Homo sapiens: one gene and its partners. The protein of the gene in region 4 purifies or fractionates together with the protein of the main gene of each other region. This does not show direct contact. Each region holds a gene or a part of one and is shown on either strand. Other genes may lie near its edges.

Region 1 (3,782 bases), on a different chromosome or scaffold from region 4:
AAGGAATCCATGGGTAGAATTCAGGGATCCATGAACTTGGATGGGGGAAAAATACATCTTTATTTAAACCTTTAACTCAAATTGAGTATTTCCTTTGATGATGAGTATAAGCAACAAACCACAATACTATTAGTAGTATTTGTGACTGTCACTAATAGAAATTATAGATACTTTTCTATCGCATTTCAGTTGTAGATAGCTCAAAGTGCCATTTACATTCATTGCAACTTCAAAATATCTGCTGTTAGACATTTACCTACCTCTAGATCCATTTAAGGGTTTAATTTAAAAAGCATATTATATCATAGATTTTTAAATAGCTTGGTAGCAGTATTTAATTGGTTTCCTGTGTAATCCTATATATTTTATTTTACTCATTTAAAAACATGATGCTGAGAAGGAATGAAGGCTTTACCAGACTGCCAAAGGGATGTATGGCACAAAGGTTTAAGGAATTATGCTTGAATTTCATTGTCTACATAGATGACATTTATTGAGCTGACTGTGCGCTTGGCATTATTTTAAGCATTCTCATAGTCCCACTGTGGAGCAGGCAGTACCCCATCCTACAGATTACAACACTGGGGCACAGAAAAGTGAAATAATTAGTCCAAGGTTTCAGGTAAATAGTAGAGCTATGAATGAACTCAGGCTACCTGTCCACAAAGCATGAACTTTTTTTTTTTTTTATACTTTAAGTTCTAGGGTACATGTGCACAACGTGCAGGTTTGTTACATATGTATACATGTGCCATGTTGGTCTGCTGCACCCATTAACTCGTCATTTACATTAGGTATATCTCCTAATGCTATCCCTCCCCCCTCCCCCTACCCCACAAGAGGCCCCGGTGTGTGATGTTCCCCTTCCTGTATCCAAGTGTTCTCATTGTTCAATTCCCACCTATAAGTGAGAACATGTGGTGTTTGGTTTTCTGTCCTTCCAATAGTTTGCTAAGAATGACGGTTTCCAGCTTCATCCATGTCCCTACAAAGGACATGAACTCATCCTTTTTTATGGCTGCATAGTATTCCATGGTGTATATGTGCCACGTTTTCTTAATCCAGTCTATCATTGACGGACATTTGGGTTGGTTCCAAGTCTTTGCTATTGTGAATAGAAAGCATGAACTCTTAACCAACAGTCATTAGCATGAAATCAATCTCAGTGTCTTTCATTCAGGAAACAGCAGTACCCATCCAGAGTAGAATGAGACCAGGGGCTGCTAGCTATTATCTGGCCTCATGGCAGGTAGCAGTAAGGGTGTACCATGCTACGGTGCCAATATGCCCCTAAGCAAAGTGGGAACACAGTGTTACTATCAGGAGTTTCTTTGTGCCATACTTCTCTGCTTTTGAAATTTACATACAACTGCTGGGGCTTTATCTCCTATGTGCAAGTGATATACAAGCCAGGGCTTTATCTTTTATGTATAGCCTTGTAAAAACCCTTTGGAATTCACCCCTTGGGCTCTGGCAATACTTGCACTAAGTAACTAAGAATCTGTGCTTAGGCCTGTAAACCTAGGGAAAATTTGCTCCACTGGCAGAGAAGCTAGAAGACTGTGGGGAGCTGGGGCAAACTGTATTTGGAATCAGGAGACCTGGCTGAGGCGACAGGTTCAGCACTAATTATTCATTAATTATATTATTCAATATTTATATTATTCTGTTGAACTAACTAGTTAACCTCTCTAACCTCAGTATTTACAGTTATAATGTAAAAGGGAAGATATCTATGAAGACTGGATGAAGGCATAAAAGTAAAAGAGCTTTCTTTCCAAATATCAGTAAATGTACGTTTTGGTTTAATATAAAGAAATTTGGCAGGGCTCAGTAGCTCATACCCATAATCCCAGTGCTTTGGGAAGTTGATGCGGTAGGATCACTTATGGCTAGAAGTTTGAGATCAGCCTGGGCAACACAGCAAGACCCCCATCTCTACAAAAAAATTTTTTTGTTTTTTTTTTTTTGAGACAGAGTCTCGCTCTGTTGCCAGGCTGGAGTGCAATGGCTCACTGCAACCTCCGCCTCCCGGGTTCAAGTGATTCTCCTGCCTCAGCCTCCTGAGTAGCTGGGATTACAGGCATGTGCCACCGTGCCTGGCTAATTTTGTATTTTTAGTAGAGATGGGGTTTCACCATGTTGGTCAGGCTGGTCTTGAACTCCCGACCTCAGGTATCCACCCGCCTCAGCCTCCCAAAGTGCTGGGATTATAGTAATGAGCCACCGTGCCCGGCCATGTTTTTTTAATTAGCCAGGTGTAGTGGTGCATGCCTATAGTCCTCACTGCTTAGGAGGCTGAGGTGGGAGGATTGCTTGAGCCCAGGTGTTCTGGGTTACAATGAGCTATGATTGTGCTGCTGCACTCCAGCCTGGGTGACAGAGCAAGAACCTGCCTTGAAGAAAAAAGAAAAAAAGAAAGAAAATATTTTTTAAAAGATAGATTAAAAAAATAAATAAAGAAGTTTTTACACTTTTGACACACTGACTGACCAGCACACAAGAGTTACATAATAAATGATTTAAAGGATGGTGGTTTAAAAAAAAAAAAAAGGGAAAAAGGCTGCTCTTTCAGAAGTAGAAACAGACCACATAGCTTCTTGTGGGAATTGTCATAAAAGGTGCGAGGCAGCAAGCAGAACATTCACATGGGTACTCTGGGGGTTCCTGCCCACGCTTAGGTCTCTGATGCACTCAAGCCTCATGATTCATCCATGGCTGTGTACCTTGACACCAGGAACTGGCCTGGGAATATTTGTATACTGTTATTTTCCCCTTTATTGCTCAACTAGGGAGGGGTGGAAAAGGAGGGTGTGGAATCCCAGTTACAGTTCAGAAGAAGAAAGACAACTTTGATGGCATTTATCCCTCTGGGACATCCTTATACTAAAAATTGAAGTGGGCAACCTGGGGAGAGAAATAACTTGATTGCCAAAGTACCATCTCTAAATATTGAATAATCAAACAGTAGGCATCAGATTAAAGCAAAAATCAAACATAAAGCCTCTGTTCCTTCAACTTCCTCTGAAGAGCCTTTCCTTATGGGGAGGTGGGAACATGCTTTTTTTCTTTTTTTTTTGAGGGAGTCTTTCTCTGTTGTCCAGGCTGGAGTCCAGTGGCTCAATCTTGGCTCACTGCAACCTCTACCTCTGGGGTTCAAGCAATTCTCCTGACTCAGCCTCCCAAGTAGCTGGGATTACAGGGATGCACCACCACACCTGGCTAATTTTTGTATTTTTATTAGAGACGGGGTTTCACCATGTTGGCCAGGCTGGTCTTGAACCCCTGACCTCTAGTGATCTGCCCGCCTCAGCCTCCCAAAGTGCTGGGATTACAGACGTGAGCCACTGTGTCCGGCCAAACATGCTCCTTTTTAAAACAGACTCAAAGGGTCACCAAATTCTGACAGAAGGCACTCGAACATATGATAAAATACAGGGTACCCAGTGATATTTTAATTTGAGATAAACAATGAATGATATTTTAGTATAATTATGTCCCAAATTCCACGCTTAATGCTAAAAGTATGGTATAAGTATTTCATGCTTATACTAAAAAAAAAAAAAAAAATCCATGTGAAATTCAAAGTTAACTGGGTAGCCTACATTTTTCTTTGCTAAATCCAGCCACCCACCACCTACCCCAACATTCTCACGTCAGCCCATTTGGGGCTCCACATATCCAATAAAGTTACCATTTTATAAAGTCACTGCCCATTAAAGTGCATCACAGTCACGTAAAGAAAAGGTGCATCAAATTGTAAAGTAGGCCGAGGGTGGTGG
Region 2 (3,782 bases), on a different chromosome or scaffold from region 4:
TCATTTCACCAGAATTAGTATTTTAAATAAGGAGCAGCATTTAATATTTCCCAACTCGTAAAAAATAATTACTTTTTGTCAGCTGAAAAGGGGACAGGTGGGTGTGTAAATTAAGTGTTGTAGTTGTTGGCATATTAGCTGCCTACGTCTCTGTTGGAAATCAACAAGGCAGAAGAGCATGCCAGGGAAAAAGCCTGGGGAGAGGAGCAGACTGTGGCTAGTGAAGAGCAGATAGAAGCAGAGAGAACTAGGAGTAGCAGAAACGAATGAGAAGGGCAGGGATAGAGCCACCCCCACCCGCCCTTTGCAAGGTGTGCTCCAGGTGTGTGGCACGTGGCAAAGAGTCCTCACATTTACACTGCCCTTGAGAAATGCATTCTAAAAGCAGATGGAGTTTGTGCTGAATGTGTTCCAAGGCGCCCCCCCCGGCCCCCCTGCTTTAATCCCCTCTCACCTTGTCCCACACCTCCTCAGTGACATCCATTATGCTTCCAAAGAAAGGGTTGACAGCAGCATTGGAGACTAGGATATCGATACCTCCATGAAGCTTCACAGCCTAGAGAGAGGGGTAAGTTCTGGACCAGGGCTGCAGTAAGTAAGGGAGGTGCATTTACCCATGTTGATAAAAACTTCCTTCTGGGCAAGGAGCTGTGGCTCATGCCTGTAATCATGGCACTTTGGGAGGCCAAGGTGGGAGGCTCACTTGAGCTGAGGAGTTTGAGAGAAGCCTGGGCCATGCAGCGAGACCTTATCTTTATATTAAAAACAACAACAACAATGACAACAAAATCTTCCTACTTAGGAACTATCGTCAAAATAACTTCTATTTCTTAAAACATCTTTTTTGAAAACTACCCTAAGATCTGCCGCTAACCATTTAAGGTTGGCTTCTTTCTTTTTTAGACGGAGTCTTGCTCTGTCATCCAGACTGGAGCACAGTGGCATGTTCTCAGCTCACTGCAGCCTTGACCTACTGGGTTCAAGCCATCCTCTTGGCTCAGCCCCCCAAGTAGTTGGGACTACAAGTGCGTGCCACCACACCCGGGCAATTTTTGTATTTTTTATAGAGACAGGGTCTTGCCATGTTGCCCAGGCTGGTCTGGAACTCCTGGGCTCAAGCCATCCACCTGCCTCAGTATCCTAAAGTGTTACAGGCGCGACCCACCAGGAAGTTGGCCCTATTTCTTTTGCAGTGTTTTCTTCCCACCTCCTATTCTTCCAAGGCTGTCTCTGACGCTCTTTTCTTTACACTTCCCCTTTGGGAAGCTCCTTCATTCTCATGATTTCAAGTCTCACCCCAAAATCTATTTCCAGACCCCTCCTCTTCCTTTCACACTGAGTTCCACCCACATTTCTCCAAGTGCTTACTGTCCAGTTCTCCTTGAATAAGTTACCATTATCTCAAAGTCAATCTGTCCACACTTACCTGAATGGAAAAACTGGCTTAAATAGAGCTGTAGAAAGTTACCCTGGAGGGGCCTTTGAGATCATCTATTCCAGTGTCCTTAAGGTGGAGATGATGAAATAGGTTCAGAGAATTTTCTCAAGATCTTATAGTTCAGTAGTGGCACACTGGGGCTAGGTAAGAACAGGAGGCCTGCTTATTCTGTGTTTGGGAGGGGTGAAGTGATGTTTTCAGGGCACAAAGCTAGTTAGTGGTGGAAGAACTGAGGTCAGTCTCCCACTTTGTAGCACAGAGCTAATTCATAAGAGCCCTCTGAAAGTGAGTTGGGGTCATCAGGAAACTGGTTGCCCAGGAGAGCCGTGATGGGAGAAGATACCAGCCTGAATTTAAAGCAATTCCATATTTGGTTATGATGTCATTTTCCCTGTCTCTGTCTCTCTCTTTTGACCTGGAGGCATGAAAGATTCAAGGCAGAAACTGAAATTTAAATTGAGAAGGCGAAGAAAGGCAACATCTCACCTCCTTAATAAGTTATAAGTAGATAGTGAGGCCTGTGCTAGAGTAATGAATGGCCAAGCAGAATCTGCCAACAAGGGTTTTCAGTACAAAGCCACCCTGAAACCAGACTTTCCGTTTGCCCGGAACTGGCAATTTTGATGCCTTGGGCAAGTTGCAGTACACGGGCCCTCGGTCAACTTTGTGCTCCGGATTTGGCACACAGAGGGGTGTTACTAACAATGTACACCATCTGCTAGCTTCCCGTTTTAACTAATTATTCTTGTTAACTAGGTGCTAAGCTCAGTTGTTTCTAGACAGTTGAAGGAATGCTGGGCTGTCAATGTGTAAATCTAACAAAATTTACAGTCACATAATCTTTTAAAACCAGTATTAATACTTTCTTGCACCCTTTAAATTTTGGTATCCTGGCACAAAGCCAAGTCACCTGCCTTGGCTCTGTGTAAGTCTCACCAATGGACTTGTTACTAGGGAGGTGCAGAGTAAGTTAATAAGTGATGTGCGCCGTGCTCAGTACACATGTGTTTGGGCTGGGAGGAGACAATGGATTGCTCTAGAATCACCTGGAGACATTTTCTACTCTGCTGTATACCCCATACTCCTCTCCTTCCAGGTCTGTCAGCACAGAGATGGGAGGAGGCTGGGTTTTGATTGAACAGAGACAGCAAACCATAAAAGATGAATGAGGCTGGGTGTGGTGGCTCACACCTATAATCCTAGCACTTTGGTAGGCCCAGTGGGGAGGACCACTTGAGGCCAGGAGTTCAAAACAGCCTGGGAAATACAGCCCCAACTCTACAAAAAATTTAAAAAATGAACTGGTGTGGTGGTGCATGCCTATAGTTTTAGCCACTTGGGAGGCTGAGGTGGGAGGATTGCTTGAGTTCAGGACTTCGAGGTTACAGTGAGCTATGATCATGTCACTGCACTGCAGCCTGGGCAACAGAAGGAGGCCCTGTCTCTGGAAAAAAAAAAAAAAGGAAAGTCTTCTAAGTCTTATTCTAAATTGTGTGATCACTACACCAAAGCGGTTAGGAGCTGTTTGTTCTGTGTTCTGATAGTTATACATTTTTAAGAAAAAATATAATCAAGGAGATAGGCAGCTACTCTGGTTTCCACTTACAACACCAGTGAGAAGCTTCGTGGTGTCCAGATGAGGAGGCCACTGGGTAGTATCCATTCTCAGGAAAGTGGCTTTTCTCATTGCAGGGTAACATGTGGCAACTGGCAGAAGACATTTCAAATTGCTGACAAGTATTCTATCATTCTCCTCTCTGACAATGGTCATACAAACTACTTGAGAGTCATTTTTGACTTCTCTATTTCCCACTTTTTGACATGGGGTTGGAAAATCTTGGTTCGTTTCCACTGAATGTCTCTTGGGCACATCTATTCCAGTCCCACCGCCACTGCTCTAAACCTGGAGGACAGCAACAGCTTCCTCACTGATGCCCTGGATTCGGTGTCTCCTCTGTATATCCTTCCTACCAGAGCCAGATTAGCTTTCCTAATAACCATCTTTCTCTTGCTCAAAACCTCACATGGCTTCTTATTTGCTACAAGGGTGTGTAAACATATCCTTTTAAGAGGCCATATCCTTTTAAGGTCCTTAACGTATCCTTTTAAGAAGCTATGGCCGGGCACAGTGGCTCACGCCTGTAATCCCAGCACATTGGGAGGCCGAGGGGGTGGATCACCTGAGGTCAGGAGTTCAAGACCAGCCTGGCCAACATGGTGAAACCCTGTCTCTACCAAAAATACAAAAATTAGCTGGACGTGGTGGTGGATGCCTGTAATCCTAGCTGCTCGGGAGGCTGAGGCATGAGAATTGCTTGAACCTGGAGGCGGAGGTTGCAGTGAG
Region 3 (2,622 bases), on a different chromosome or scaffold from region 4:
TCATGGAATCTTTCTGACACTGTTTGCAAAATCACAGGCATAACCAGTAAGTAAGGGGGCTTCAGGCTGCACCCCACCCGAGGTAGAGGACTGTGTGGGAGCACAAAGCTGGCCCTGCCCGATGTGGTGGGTGGCCTTCCTTGTTAACCACCACCACCACCAAACAGGGCTCTATTTCTGACTGCATGCAATTTTTAGGATAGCGCCATTTCAGCTGAGATAGTGATCTCAGGTCCAGTCCTCCACGTGCATGACTGGTAGTGATGCACACCCGCCAACATCTCTGAGCTTCAAACACCCCTCTGTGGGTCCCTCCTCCTGAATTCACAAGGCTGCTGCAGGGATAAATACACAGGCATCTGCCGCATCTCAACTCCCACTCTCCAAATGTTTGCTATCACGGTTTGCAAAATATTTTACCCCATATTGGCTATCCAAATTAAATATAACAAACATGTAAGGGTTTGCAGCAATATCATTCAAGTAGTGTCTGGACCCATTAAGAGGATACAGCTCAGGCTACCACCTTAGCCTAAGTATTCTACCACCGAAGAGCAAGTATTCCCCCTTCCCATTTCCCCACCACCCACATTTTTTTTTTTTTTTTTTTTTTTTTTTGAGACAGGACCTTGCTCTATTGCTCAGGCTGGATTGCAGTGGCACAATCTCCGCTCACTGCAACCTCTTCCTCCTGGGCTCAAGCGATCCTCCTACCTTAGTCTCCTGAGCAGCTGGAATTACAGGCATGTGCTACAATGCTTGGATAATTTTTGTTAGTAGAGAGGAGGTTTCACCATGTTGCCCAAGCTGGTCTCCAACTCCTGGGCTCAAGCGATCCATGCGCCTTGGCCTCCCAAGGCCTCCCAAGTGCTGGGATTATAGGTATGGGCCACCATGCCCAGCCACCCATCTCCCTCCTCTTGCCACCAGATGCCCTGAGGCAACTTAAGTCTTCATGACTTTCTCACCAATTACAAAAAGGCTTTATTATATTTTGCCAAATGTTAATCGCTTTCATTATGTCTCCAAACATTATTTCACCACTCATTTTTATAACAAGTGCAGTGAAGATATGCTTATCGAATATTGTACAATACTGTTGTGTTCTGTAACACTCTTTCGGGAACAGCTTAGATGTAGGTAACAAGAGATGCCTGCGTATGAAAGTGCTTCATAAACTGTACTGTATAAATGTAAACTACTACCATTTTCAGGTAAAATCAGAGAATAAATGTCTCTTGTTGGAAGTGTCCTCTCAGGACTCCTCTAGTCCAATCTCCCCAGTGAGTGGATGAGGGAAAAGACTGACGCCAGAGGCAGGAGGCTCTGGATTGGAGAGTTAGAGGCCAACGCAAGTATAGAATCTGCAGTCCTAGCACAGGGATCTTTCTCCTCCCTTGTGTAATTTATCTTTAAAAACACTGATAGTTTTCTGGTGCTGGGAGCACCATGCCCTTTAAAACTTATGAATTAATGGACGATTACAACAAAAAGAACTTTTTACCTAGCCCTCAATAAATAGTTGTTGGTGAAATTAGAAATTTGAGGTTGAATTGTTAAAGATCGTCTTGGTCACTCCTCTCTCGTGAAGAAACCCATCGACTCAGAATCACCTCCTACAACCAATAAAAAAAAAGACCATTTCTTAAAACAGAAATGTAAGACCATTCTGACACCACAGCTGACACCACAGCTACATTTCACAAAGGGCGGTCTATATAATGATGATACTGTTCCCACCTTTAGAACAGAAACATCTGGAGAAAATGAATGTAACAATATAAACCTTACAAGCATACAGTATCTACTTTCACCAGGCAAAGATTTTAACAGCTAAGCTTGCCTCTGCTGTGGTATTCTACTAGCACATTTCAGAAACAGGTGGGCGGGATGAAAGCTAGCATTTTACATTAGAGCTAGGTCTGTGATGGCATTGCTGTAACGGGGCCAGCTACTGAGAAGGGAGAAATGAGGTTGATGAGCATTTTATGAGAAACTAGCCTAGTGGAGATAAGTGGGACCAACTGAAGGGAAGACGTGCTGGGGCCCTGGAGACCGACCAGCAGGTCTGCAGGGGCAGGGTGGTGTGAAAAGAAGACAGGACGACAACAAAGACATACTGGATGTTGGGAGGAGCCAATGGCAACGTTAAGGCTCTACACACAGAGGGAGGGAATGCAGAAACACGGACACACACTAGACAACTCGGCCAGACCAGAGAGAAACAAGCCAAGATGACAGGAGGCGCCTTGGTTCAATACAGAAGCCCAGAAGCAGGAACAAGTCAACAGGGACACCTCTGGTCTCTGGGAATGAGACCTGTGAGAAGTCCTGGCCTGGCCAGGGGGTCACAGGCCACCTGTAAGAGAGCAGTTTCAGCTGAGTGATGGGGACATCACAGGTAATAAAGTGGGGAATTAAGGAATAGAGGAAGTCAGCATAGATTTCGTGTCCAATGGGTTCAATGGGGAAAAGGTGAGAGACTTAAGAGCCTGCCTGAGAAGGCTCTGTTACCAAGGCAAAACTGTATTCATGTATTTTCTTGGGACCACATGTTCCAGATACACTATGATTCACAGAATCTTTGGGATGACATGAATTTCTCTGAGTTTACCCACCTGA
Region 4 (3,782 bases):
TTCACCTTCCTAGAAAGGGGCATCTTGAAGTCATCATGCCCCCATAAGGCTCCTTTGTTATCTCAGGACCACATCAGCCCTAATGGGGGCCTTGAAAGGGCCTCAGGCTCACTCCTCTACTAACTCTGCTCATAAATTGGCAAAGACTGCTTGATTCTCCCTGCTTCCAACACCCTTCTGGACTACAGGAAGAGATACAGAGAGCAGGATGGCTTTCAGACACCTAGGTTGAGAACAGAAAGAAGGGAAAAAAGAGAGAGGGGTGTTCCGACATTCACCGGCACAGCGCTAGGTCAGAAGCAGCCCCATTCTCCACTGCAGGGTAGCTCTGGGTCAAGGCATGGAGGCTTAGGGGTGACCAATTAGACAGGAGATCTGACAAGTAAGAAGAATGCCAGTTCAGAGTGCGGCGTAACCCTGCTGCTAGCCCTGCCTAGCCCTGGGAGACAAACCCAACCTCATTCCCAGCCCAACCTCAACCTCTCCATACAAAGCCAATTAGCCTTAAATAGCTGCTCCTAATGACTTGACCAACCCATCAGGACTTCCACCCAACCCTGCCCTGAGCAGAAACATTCCACCACTCCTGGGTTTTAACATTAAATTAATGAGAGAGATAGGGAAGGGGGCTATCTCACTTTAAAAATCAAGGAGTCCTTGGGGCGCTGTGGCTCATGCCTGTAATCCCAGCACTTTGGGAGACTGAGGAGGACAGATCACTTGAGCTCAGGGGTTGGAGACCAGCCTGGGCAACATGGTAAAACCCCATCTCTACAAAAAAGACAAAAATTAGCCAGCTGTGGTAGCACATGCCTATAGTACTAGCTGCTCAGGACGCTGAGATGGAAGGATCACCTGAGCCCAGGGAGGTTAAGGCTGCAGTGAGCTGTGATTGCACTACTGCACTCTAGCCTGGTCAACAAAGGGAGACCCTGTATCACCAAAAAAAAAAAAAAAAAAAAAAAAAAAAAATCAAGGAGTCTCTCTAGAGAATCTGCTGTTTATAAACAAATAAATGAGTAAGTAAGCCTCTGCCACTTGCAGAGATTTTGCACTTTATAACATGCCTTCAAATGCATGATCTCATTTGATCCTCACACAGATGAGGAGCCCGGGTTGGAGAGTCAGAGCCAGGAGTCAAGCCCAGATCCACAATAGTTGGAATTGAAATTAGAATTTAAAACTCTCTTAGAGGCTGGGTGCAGTGGCTCACACCTGTAATCTCAGCAATTTGAAAGGCCGAGGTGGGAGGATTGCTTGAGCTTAGGAGTTCAAGACCAGCCTGAGCAATACAGTGAGACCCCCATCTCATTTTTGTTTAAAGTGAAAAAAGAAAAAAAAATTAAGATTCTCTTAGGAAACGTTCTTTAATGTGGAGAGTGAATGTTGGGTTGGGCAAAGCAATTGCCTTTCTCTTCCGTGAAGCAGCAGCTTTTCCAGAACTGATGGTGGAGAGCAGAACTGCATGCAGTTGGCTGTTGTAGGTGGTCAACAAACCTTCACTGATTGAGCAATGAGCAGAGCCCAGTAGAAAGCTGTGGGTGGAGAAGTGCACTTGTGAAAGCATAAGAAAAATTTAAAAACACACACATGGACCCATCCTAAGGAATCTTATGATTGGACAGAAGTTTCTAGAAGGCAGGAGCATAGAGTGTGGGTCTGAGGCTTTGTAGGAGGGACTATGACTACCCATGGAGTCCAGGTACCCTCAGTCTGTCACACAGATTCTGGTTTCAGAGACCTAGGACATCACGGAGCACTGCCAGAGAGAATGGCTGTGCTGTCAGCTGTCAGAACTTTTCATCCTGCCTCATGGCAAAGCTCCGGCAGGAAGGGGCATCACCCCATGAGAAAAGCCTTAGAAATGAATGCTATTTCCTTAAGAGAGAAGCATCCCTGCACTTGGAATGGTTCTGATTCAGCCCTGGGGCTGAGGGAAGGGGAGGAGAGCAGGCTCAGCTTCCCCACATAACTTGCTCCTGGGAGCATTTCCTGGGGAACCTCCTGTTGGCTCTGGGAGCAGCTTGGCTAGGCCCAGAGGTTTGGAATGTAAACGGGTCAGAGGACTAGTGAAAAGATAAGTTCCCAAAGGGTCTGGTGCTGCACATGGGGATGAGGAAGGCCTGTGTTTACTGTGGATGAGAAGGCGCGCACAGCCAGCCTGCTGGGTGGAGCTGTGAGTAACCTGCCTGTTCCTCTCACCCCTGACAATGAAGACCAGGGCTGCCCTGGCACTGAGCCAAGGAAACCCCGCCCCGCCCAGCACAGGTCACAGCCACAGTGCCTCACTGCTTTTGCTGGAAGCCCTGGGCAAATTGGTGCCCAGTCCCTGGCATATGCTTTCGGTGACAAAGGCAATGAAGGGATATAGAAAAACTCCCGCCAGTGCTGGGAGCCTCCTTGGGACAGGGCTTCTCACAGTATGAAAGATTTCTAGATCATTTCTAGGCTTCTGGGTGATTAGAAAATAAATTTTTTTTTTTAAATCAGGGTCACAAAAATTGAGGCTTTTAGAAATGTTTGTTTTAGAATACCAATGCTTTAACTACCCCCTTAATTTATATGCAAGATGACTGTTCTGTTTTCCAGAAAATTACAGAACTTACACAATGTTAATTCATAGTTCACCAATTACAAGTGAAGTGGGGTTCAGCCAACAAGACTCAAGCTTAAAGTTTTGCAATTAATGCCTTCTCTTTTTAACCCTTGCAATGTATCTCTGACAATGTTATATCCTTAACGGGAGATCAAGCCAAAAACCTAACTGCAAGGTCCTTTGTGATAGGAGGCCAGGGAAAATGGCCTTCCAGACCTCCTTGGAGAGGCCTGCCTTGGAAGAGACCACCTTAGAGGGAGGTGGAGAAAGACAGTCTCTGCCTTCCTTCCCTTCCGCCTTCCTTCTTTCCTTCCAATACTCAGTGTACTGCGTATGGGCTCATATACGCACACAGAGGATAAGTGAGTGAGTTTGCTTATGTGCATGGGACCTGAAGAGGTGTGTGTGTGAGTGTGCAGACTGGATCTGCTGTTAAACAGCATCTTGGCCTTGGCGAGCCACTTCTTCCTTCCAGTCCTCAGTTTTTGCAAATGGTGGGGTCTGGAGTTGATTGGTGGATTTCAAGCCATTTTTAGCAAAGAAACGTGTCCCCTGCCCCTCAACAAATGAATGCTTCGGCTAAACCTCAATATATATAATAGGTTTTTTTAAAGAGAGCTGCTGAGGTTGGCACAGGGATGGGTTGAGGGTACCCCAGGGCCATCTCCTCAGTCTCCTCCCCACAGGGGTATGTCACAGAAATGAAAGCAGAGTTGGAAAACCACTAGGTTATAGGATCTTTAAGGACCTTTCTGGATTTAACCAGGACGCTAAGGTTCATACATCCTAACATCCCTCTCATGAAGACACTGATGATTTTCTCATGCTGTGAATGGGAGGACTGAGGGCCAGAGTGGTTAAGGGTCTTCTCTGACAAGCCCCAGGACTCCTGACTCGGAGTCCAGTGTGCTTTCTTTCTTTCTTTTTTTTTTTTTGAGAAAGAGTTTTGCTCTTGTTGCCCAGGCTGGAGTGCATTGGTGCAATCTCGGCTCACTGCAACCTCCTCCTCCTGGGTTCAAGCGATTCTCCTGCCTCAGCCTCCCAAGTAGCTGAGATTACAGGTGTCCAACACCACACCCTGCTAATTTTTTGTATTTAGTAGAGATGGGGTTTCTCCATGTTGGTCAGGCTGATCTCGAACTCCTGACCTGAAGTGATCCACCCGCCTTGGCCTCCCAAAGTGCTG
Region 5 (3,782 bases), on a different chromosome or scaffold from region 4:
TGAAACAGTAACAGGATAGTTTATTAGCTTATAAGTAGGATAAAGTCAAATCTCAGACTTGATATTTAAGACCTTTGAGAACTACCAAGTTTTCCAATACTATTATACCATACATTTTTCACTGCAAAATACACATGAAACTAAGAACAAACAAACAACAGAACTCTAGTAAGATGCAGACACCCTGGGCAAAAGGTCCACTTCTTAATTAAGTAACTTCCTACTGCAAACTGTTCAAGACTCACACTTGTCACAGGTCCTCCAATGTTGCTTAAACATGAGCAAAATTGTGAATGTTAAACCCTAGAATACCATATCTGATAATTCTCAATTATTTGTATAATCACTTTTAATGCATGATGGTTTCCCAGCTTACCCTCCATGCATTTTGTAAAAAAATAAGCGTCTTAAAAATTCTGCTATATTTCGTTATTTGTTTCCATGGGGTTTGTTGAATGGGAGTAATGTTAGAGGAAACCTGGGCCTAGGAGGAGTTGAATAAATTAAGATTTTTGAGGGCCCTGGAAATATTATAAACTCTTCTCAATCTTTTCTCTAATTCACAGACATAAGCATTTGGTCCAAAGAATTTTAGAGGTTCACATTTGTCACTAACAATTCTTAGTATCCCAAAAACAATAGTTTTCCAAGACTCCAATCTCCCCAAGTATGGAACAGGTACTTTAAGATGCACCCACATCACTAACATGGAAGAAAGTACTGCATACTGGACAAAGAAGAAATAAGGATAGAAAAACCATGGCCACTCTCCTTTATTTCTGTGGTACCTGCTGAGAGCTGTAGGCCTTGGTTTATAGCCAAGTGAGGTGTGTCACTTGCAGGCAGTTCTGTGTAGATCTTCATCCTCCCTGTGTCCACGTGGAGGCCATCAGTGAGGGAGAACTGGAACTCATCCACGACCATGCCAGGGACACTAGGCACATACCCAACCAGCCCAGCTAGGATATCCTGGTAGGTGAAGGTTGAGCCCTGGACTAAAACTCTCCCATTCTCCAGAGGCTCAGAAGCAGTTTGCCTCCAGAGTACATGACCTGAGGGAAGAGGTAAAGAAAAGCAAAACAATGGTAGAATACACATATATATATGATTCAAAACATTGTCTGATTTTTCCAAGTAGTATGAGTCTGGGTAGAATGTCAAGTGCCTCAGAGGCTCTTGGTGCCAACAGCTTAGCATTTTACATATAACCACAGGGTGCTGCTCTGTGGCCTCATACACAAATAAAGAAGACAAAGTCCCACTTATCCTAGCTAAAAAGTCTCTTAAGGAGACACAGATGGATGTGGTAATACAGTGACTTACAAATCATATCTCCCTCCATGAATTTAAACTCACTTCATTATCTAAATCTTATTTTTCCCTTTTGCAAAGTGAAAATAGCACTCACTGTCTTTCTCTTAGGGCATCTAGAGGCAGAGATGAGAATATGCTTTAAATTCCTTTTCAATTAAGAGAGACACTAAGCATCTTTAGATTGAAGCATATATTTCTGTTCTCAAGGGTCATGTACCGCAGTGGGACAGTCAAAGTGCTTCATTCAAGAAAGCGAAAGTGAATGGAAGCCAGCTAAAATACAATGCCCAACAGTTTTTTCTATTAACCCTTCATCTACTGCAACAATTTAATCTTTAAAAGACCAATGAGCATTACGATGAATTGAGACACACCACTTGCATTCCAGAACTTTAGCCAATAACTGGAGAGATGGCTCTTAAAAAAAAGAAGTAGGTAGAAGGTCCCAAAAGTGGCTTCTGCATCTGGTTTAAATGAGGAAAAGTGTTTTTTTTTTTTTTTTACAAAAGGAACAAGTTCATAAAGACATCTAGTATGCCTCTACAAGGGTACATAAAATGGCTCAAGATTATTAAACACTGATGTCTACCCTGAGAAGACAATATGGGAACTCTGAGAAGAGAATAGGCAAATTCTGAAAACTTTTTTGCTTAAGGTTACATAGAAAAGCAAAAAAACGGCTGAAATTTAACTTCAGAGACACCAATTAACTGGGATTGAGGCTTCTTAAACAACTGATGTCTACCAGGACTCCAAAAAAATATTAGCCAGCTGTGAATTTGATTACACTTTGATGCAAAGAATGTACCATATACAAGAAAAGAAATAGTCAACTGAAATATTTGTGTTTATTCTAACAGCCCATCGGGCATCTCAATTAAGAAGCTTTTCATAGCAGTTCGTGCCCTACCGTGGTCAGGCTTTTTTGTCAATACAAAAATGAGCTCATTATCTGGGGTGTCCAGGTCTTGCAGGCTCAAAGAAGAATTGCTTATCACCACTCCCGAGCTCAGCTGCACTCTGAGGGGCTGCAAGGTCATCCTGGGAGGCTCATCGTTCTTCCTCTGATTAAAGCATAAACTATTAGATCTCACACAGATATTTAAGAAGAAAGAAAATGCACATTATTCAGAGACAGTATCATTGCTACAGAAATGTTCACCTCAAAATAGCATTTAATGTGGCACCATCTTTACTTCCCAAGCAAAATAGTTAGTTTGAAAAGAGAGCAAGTCCAGGCAACAAAATGCCCCCTTCAAAAGAAGCTGATGGACATTTCATAAAAGTTTTCTCAGATATCTTCCGTAAGTACAATGACCATATTTTCTAGACCAAAAATATGGATATGTGCTTTGACAAGTACAAGTATTAACATACTTTGAAGATAAAAGACCATACTAATATAACTCAGAACTCTCTTAGAAAATGCTAAGCATACCACAGTACCTGTAGAAGGACACTATATTTGAAAGTGTGGGTCTCTAAAGCTGTCTCCCTGCCCTGGTGCCAGCCCCTTTCCACCACTGACCCTTAAGAGTGCAGAGGGTTCTTTACATTTTATTTTCCCAAGGCAGAGGGTATTTCATTCTGAGATTTATCTTTCCCCTCCCCTGTGTCTCTCTCTCGGTAGAGCAAGCCTGTGTAGTTGCTCAAATGAGAATAAATACAGCATCAAGGAACACATTTCTTTGATGTTACAATTAAATAAATAAATGCAGTAAAATAAGAAAAGGCAAATATGCATATAGAACCAAACACAATTTCAGAGAAACATAGACATATGTAAGTTTTCATTTATATATGAGACTGGCAAAGCATCTCTGACCTTCACAAACTGTTTTTCACACCGAACAAATAAATTCAATCCTGAAATGGAAATTTAGATTTCTAACTCAAGCCTTCCCCAAATGCCAACCTTAATTCTACAAGATTCCTGAAGGCTATATTTTAAGAACGACCTTCAATTTTGAAGGTCAAATCCAATCTTCTTTGCTTTTGAGTCCCTATAAAGAAAGCTCTCTAATGGTGTGAAATATTGTGGTCAAGGGCTCAACCTTTCCAACTTCCAAAGTCTTTACCTCAATGGTGATATTGATGCTGTGAATTTCTGAACGACTGGTTCCATCACTCACATAAAAACTAAAAATATCATGGGTTGGCTCAATGCTTTCATGAACACTCTGAAAGTAGTAAATGTAGTTTTCCAGGACGTCTTGAATAGGAAATGATGCCTCTAGGTCACTGGCAGTTTCAGGGCCAAAACGATCACCTGCATCAACATCAAGAGAGCATTTTTACCTTGATCTATCAATTCCTGCTTACTAGGCTGAACTAGAAAACAAGGTATCATTTTCGGCAAAAAAAAAGAAAATGTATTTGAGGATAAAGTTGGGAGAGTGGGATAAGCACAAGACCAGGAATTGGAAGGCCTGGGTCAGATCCGTTTCCTCACTGACTATTTCTCATCT
Region 6 (4,427 bases), on a different chromosome or scaffold from region 4:
TGGGAAAGCTGAGAAACAAACACACCAGAATCCGAGTCTGAAAAGCCCAGAGCCCGGGTTGCCATGGCAACCTGCAGCCAGCTCCAGCCCGGGACTCCGCCAGCCTGGGTAGGGGCCGGGACTCGCCAGGCACGGCTGCTCCCAGCTCTGAGGCCTCCTCCTTGGGCTTGGCCCTGTTTCTGCTTGGACACAGAAGTGGTGCAAGGCCACAGAGAGGCACTTCTCCCCTGTCAGGTGGGCCAGGCAGGCCTGGGCTCCCCTGGGCTCCCACTGCCAGCTTTCTCCCAGAGTAAGGCCTGGCCCCTGGGCCTCCAGAGTCCAGCACCTCTCAGCACCCCACCCCGGCACCCATTGCTCCAGCACCCATCACTCCAGCAGCTGTCAAGCCCATCAGCTGCCTGGGTCACCACAGCACCAGTGTATGGACAGGCCTCAGGCGCCGGCCAGGTCAGCGGCCTTGAGGCTGTTATGTGGGCACCGATAGAGGGGCAGTGAGATGATTCCCTGCCTTACCTCACAGCTGGGGGGTGCCAGCACTAGTGTGAAGCTTTCTACGTGATTTTTCTCCTTTAATGGCACTCCTGACAGATGAGGAAACAAGCTCAGAGCAATTAAGCGACTTCCCAAGGTACAGAGCTGCTGCTTGGTAAGAAGCAGAGACTTGCAACTCCTGGGCCCAGGTTCCTGCCCTGGAGCCTGTTCCTGGATGCCCTGGGCTGAGCCCTGCACGTCAGCAGAGCCCATCACCCAACCACTCACCTGACCCCCCGGCCACAGGGCTGTGCCCAGTCTACACAGACACACAGCAGAAAGAGGATGGCCTTCAGGTTTCCATTTAATGGCCAAGCCAGCACTGCCAAGATGTCCTCCTGCCTGAGAAGCCCACCCACGCTGGCACCCCTCAGCCTCACTAGCGGCATCCCAGTCCAGTCCTGGTGTGGGGCCTCATCTCAGCTCCTTCAGCAAGCTGTTGACAGAGCCCAGCAGCTCCTGGAAGTAGCCCTCGTCCTCACCATCCTGCAGCTCCAGGCTGGCCAGCACCTGGTACTCAGCCTGCAGGCTGGCCAGTGTCCTGCCGAGCTGGGGGTCCTGACGGTAGCGGTCCCGGCAGGTGGTCAGGAGGACGCCCAGTGTCTGCAGCACCTTCTCACGGGCATCATGCTCGGGCAGCGCCAGGAGGTGGGCCGTGATCTCGCACCAGCCCTGTTCCCACAGGCCTGGCAGGAGGTGTACCTGGCGATACTGCTGCAGCTTCTCTGGGGACATCTCCTGGGTCAGCTCAGCCTCCTCCTCGGCGAACATCTGCCATCCGCCACAGCCGCAGGCCAGGTAGGGTGGGGGTGGGGAGAGAACACACAGGGAGCAGTTAGCTCACACCTGGCTAGCTCTGCCCTTCAGACAGGAAGGCACGAGGCTGACCCCTGAGGGCCCACCTCTTCCTCTATCCCCAAGTCTGTCTGTCTATTCATTCATTCATCCACCAACAGAAACACTTGTGTGGTGCCAGGTGCTGAAGAAACCACGATGGAGACATAGTCTTACCCTCAAGGAGCTTAAGGTCTAGCAGGAGAATAAAAATTAACTAATTCCCAAATAGCATAAATGTAATCTAACAGTGCAGCATGGAGGCAGACAGGCTGGCTTCAAATTCCTGCTCCACCACTGACTTGCTGAATGACCATGGCTGGCACTTAGCCTCCCTGAGACTCATCGTCATCACCTCCTAAGTGGAGAAACTCAGCCTGTCTGTAAAGCGCAGAAGCCCAGCTCTATCAGCAGAACATGGTGGGAGCCAATCCTGCCGGGCTACCAGCAGCGGGAAAGCCAACACCTGAACCATGACAAGCAGGCAGGTTACCTGAAGGTCAGAGGTAGAGGGTTGGGAGGGGGCAGAGATCTCCCGTGCAGCTGTAGGAAGTGTGCCTGTATGGAGAAAGAAGGAATGCCTGCCCTAACTCCAGGGGAGAATGAAGCACAGGGAAGATGCACAAGGCAAGAGGGAAGCCCAGGAGAAGAGGAGGCCACAGTGGACCACCTGTGCTTCCTGCGGCAGCAGGAAGTCGTGGGGCTGATTGGGGCTGGCAGAGGAAACTGAGGAGGGGTGCAATCCTGCATCCTGGGACAGGAGAGGCTGAGAGGTATCCCCTAGTCCTTTCCTACTTCACCCCTCAGTCCTGCCAGCTTCGCTTCCAAAACACACCCCAATTCTGTCAGCTCCACCTTTGTCCCTTGTGTCCTGCGATCCAGTGCCTCCTGCTCTCACCCTCTCCTCCAGCCCCCAAACCCTCACAGCCTGGCATTGCGGGTGATAAAGACAAAATCAATCCCTTCCCTGGGACTGCGAGGCTCTGCAGGCTCTGCCCCCACTGTGCGCGGCCTGGACCCACTCACACCCACTCCTGTCACTCTAACTCTCCCCTGGGGCCTCTGGAGGCGCAGCTCCGACTTCCAGGTGCACCCCCGCATTGGCCCCATTCACTCCACGGCTCCCTGCACACCTCACCGCCACTGACCGGCCTCCCCTGACTGGCCTTCTCTGCTTATATGCTGCTGTGGTTTGAGTGTGTTCCCTAAAAGTTCAAGTGTTGGAAGCTTAATTCCCAAGGCAGCAGTATTGAGAGGAGCTGCCTAGGTCAGGAGGGCAGCGGGTTCCTTACGGGAGAGCGGTTGTTATTCTAGAGAGCAAGCCCGGCCCAGCATGCTTTTTTCCGCAAGTGCTCTTGCCCTCTCACCTTCCACAATGTTGTCATGCAACACAAAGGCTCCCGCCAGATGCACCCACCCAATCGTGGATTTCCCAGCCTCCCGAATCATGAGCCAAAAACTGCCTTTTCTTTATATTATCCAGTCCCGGGTATTCTGTTAAAGCAGCAGCAGACAGACTACAACACAAGCTCAGGGGAATTCTCTGATAAACATCTGCCTGAAAGCTCAGGGACGACAGGGACTGCGGATTATTTTCCCAGCACCCGGCACAGCAGGCAGCACAGGCAGGCAGGGTCCCCCTGCGGCCCTTCAGCTCCTCAGATGCACCAGAGGCCATGGAATCCAAACCCCAGGCAGGCATCTCACCACTGCAGAAGCCCAGATGTCAGGGCATGGTCTCTCAGTAGAGGTCCTCTCACAGGCCAAGGTACATATGAGGACTGCCTGGGGCCTGGCAGACCCCAGCACCCTGATGGGGGTGTCACATTGCCCATGGGAATTCCACAGTCCTTGGCTGTCATGACAACATGCTGCAGTGATCCCCGAGCTGCATGGCACCCCTCCATCGTGGTGGACAGCTCATGTCCCTCCACCTTCAGGCAGCTCTGGACCCACCCCTAGCTTGGCTAGGTCTTCATTCTTAAGCGCTGCAAGAGGCTGGACTTAGTGACTCACGCCTATAATTCCAATACTTTGGGAAGCTGAGGCAGGACTGCTTGAGCCCAGGAGTTCAAGACCAGCCTGAGCAACATAGTGAGACCCTGTCTACAAAAAACGAACAAAATTAACCAGGCATGGTGGCATGGACCTGTAGTCCCAGCTACTCAGGGGGCTGAGGTGGGAGGATCACTTGAGTCTGGGAGGCAGAGTTTACAGTGAGCCAAGATCGTGCCACTGGGTGACAGAGAGAGACCCTGTCTCAAAAAAAAAAAAAAAAAAGAAAAAAGAAAAGAAAAGAAAAAAGAAAAAAGAAATCACAAGAACAGAGAAGCCCTGACTGCCTCAGCCCAAGTACAGTGTGTCCTAAATCTCTCTGGCTGAAATTTATCTGCTGTCCTCCCTGAAAGAAGAGGGCCATTTCTGTACTGTTTGTAGAGAGATGCCAGTCCTCCCCTCCCCAATCATGTCAGCACCCCAAAGCTTCCAGAGGCAGGCTCCCGGGGCCGGCAGCCTCGGGGCAGCCTTGGTGAGCCTGCCTGGTGGTAGTGTGCTAGCAATGTGTCAGTGCCATAGTGCCCAGGATGCCAGGGCTGGGGGCAGCAGGGACACACACCCAAGACACCAGAGAACAGAGCCCAGTTTCCCTGGGAAATGCCCAGCCAGCTGACATGTCCTTCTCCAGGCTCACTGGCCCAGTCCCAGAACCTGAACTGTGCCCAGGCCTTATCAATTGGATCTGAGCACCACATGGCTGCCTGCTGTTCTAAGAAACTGGATTTCTGCAGCTTTAACAAGAGAAGAGAGAGAAACAGGCAAAGACAGAGAGTTGGGGAGAGACAGTGATGGACAGAGGTGGCCACAGCCATCCCGACACTGCCTGGGAGAGAAGGCCTGGGGGAGGCGTGTGCAGAGGGAGTGAGGGGCCCAGCCTCCACCATTCGGCAGCAGTTCCAGCGGCTGCCCAGCCCTGCTCCACTAGTCGGCATGCGGCTCTTCTGGGGAGCGTGTGGCCCGAGAGAGGCAACTGAGGAAGCCCTGCCAATGCTCTCTGCAGTAGCTGA

What was found.
Region 1: the proteins of PRELP (region 4) and PON2 purify together in Homo sapiens (affinity purification with mass spectrometry; one large-scale study listed by BioGRID and IntAct). This does not show direct contact.
Region 2: the proteins of PRELP (region 4) and DHRS4 purify together in Homo sapiens (affinity purification with mass spectrometry; 3 studies listed by BioGRID and IntAct, with this or other methods). This does not show direct contact.
Region 3: the proteins of PRELP (region 4) and TSEN2 purify together in Homo sapiens (affinity purification with mass spectrometry, with the first as the bait; one large-scale study listed by BioGRID). This does not show direct contact.
Region 5: the proteins of PRELP (region 4) and FRAS1 purify together in Homo sapiens (affinity purification with mass spectrometry; one large-scale study listed by BioGRID and IntAct). This does not show direct contact.
Region 6: the proteins of PRELP (region 4) and SIL1 purify together in Homo sapiens (affinity purification with mass spectrometry; one large-scale study listed by BioGRID and IntAct). This does not show direct contact.

Annotation. Positions count from the first base shown.
Region 1 is NC_000007.14:95,428,361-95,432,142, forward strand, and holds part of PON2 (serum paraoxonase/arylesterase 2), read right to left. Parts: intron 1-3,782. UniProt on the Homo sapiens protein: Capable of hydrolyzing lactones and a number of aromatic carboxylic acid esters. Has antioxidant activity. Is not associated with high density lipoprotein.
Region 2 is NC_000014.9:23,956,676-23,960,457, reverse strand, and holds part of DHRS4 (dehydrogenase/reductase SDR family member 4), read right to left. Parts: intron 557-3,782; coding exon 455-556; intron 1-454. UniProt on the Homo sapiens protein: NADPH-dependent oxidoreductase which catalyzes the reduction of a variety of compounds bearing carbonyl groups including ketosteroids, alpha-dicarbonyl compounds, aldehydes, aromatic ketones and quinones.
Region 3 is NC_000003.12:12,531,656-12,534,277, reverse strand, and holds the end of TSEN2 (tRNA-splicing endonuclease subunit Sen2), read right to left. Parts: coding exon 2,619-2,622; intron 1,617-2,618; coding exon 1,557-1,616; 3' UTR 620-1,556; downstream 1-619.
Region 4 is NC_000001.11:203,478,765-203,482,546, forward strand, and holds part of PRELP (prolargin precursor), read left to right. Parts: intron 1-3,782. UniProt on the Homo sapiens protein: May anchor basement membranes to the underlying connective tissue.
Region 5 is NC_000004.12:78,445,323-78,449,104, reverse strand, and holds part of FRAS1 (extracellular matrix organizing protein FRAS1 isoform 1 precursor), read right to left. Parts: intron 3,584-3,782; coding exon 3,393-3,583; coding exon of another isoform or gene 3,318-3,392; exon of another isoform or gene 2,472-3,317; intron 2,379-2,471; coding exon 2,225-2,378; intron 1,053-2,224; coding exon 789-1,052; intron 1-788. UniProt on the Homo sapiens protein: Involved in extracellular matrix organization. Required for the regulation of epidermal-basement membrane adhesion responsible for proper organogenesis during embryonic development. Involved in brain organization and function.
Region 6 is NC_000005.10:138,946,172-138,950,598, forward strand, and holds the end of SIL1 (nucleotide exchange factor SIL1 precursor), read right to left. Parts: intron 1,303-4,427; coding exon 946-1,302; 3' UTR 553-945; downstream 1-552.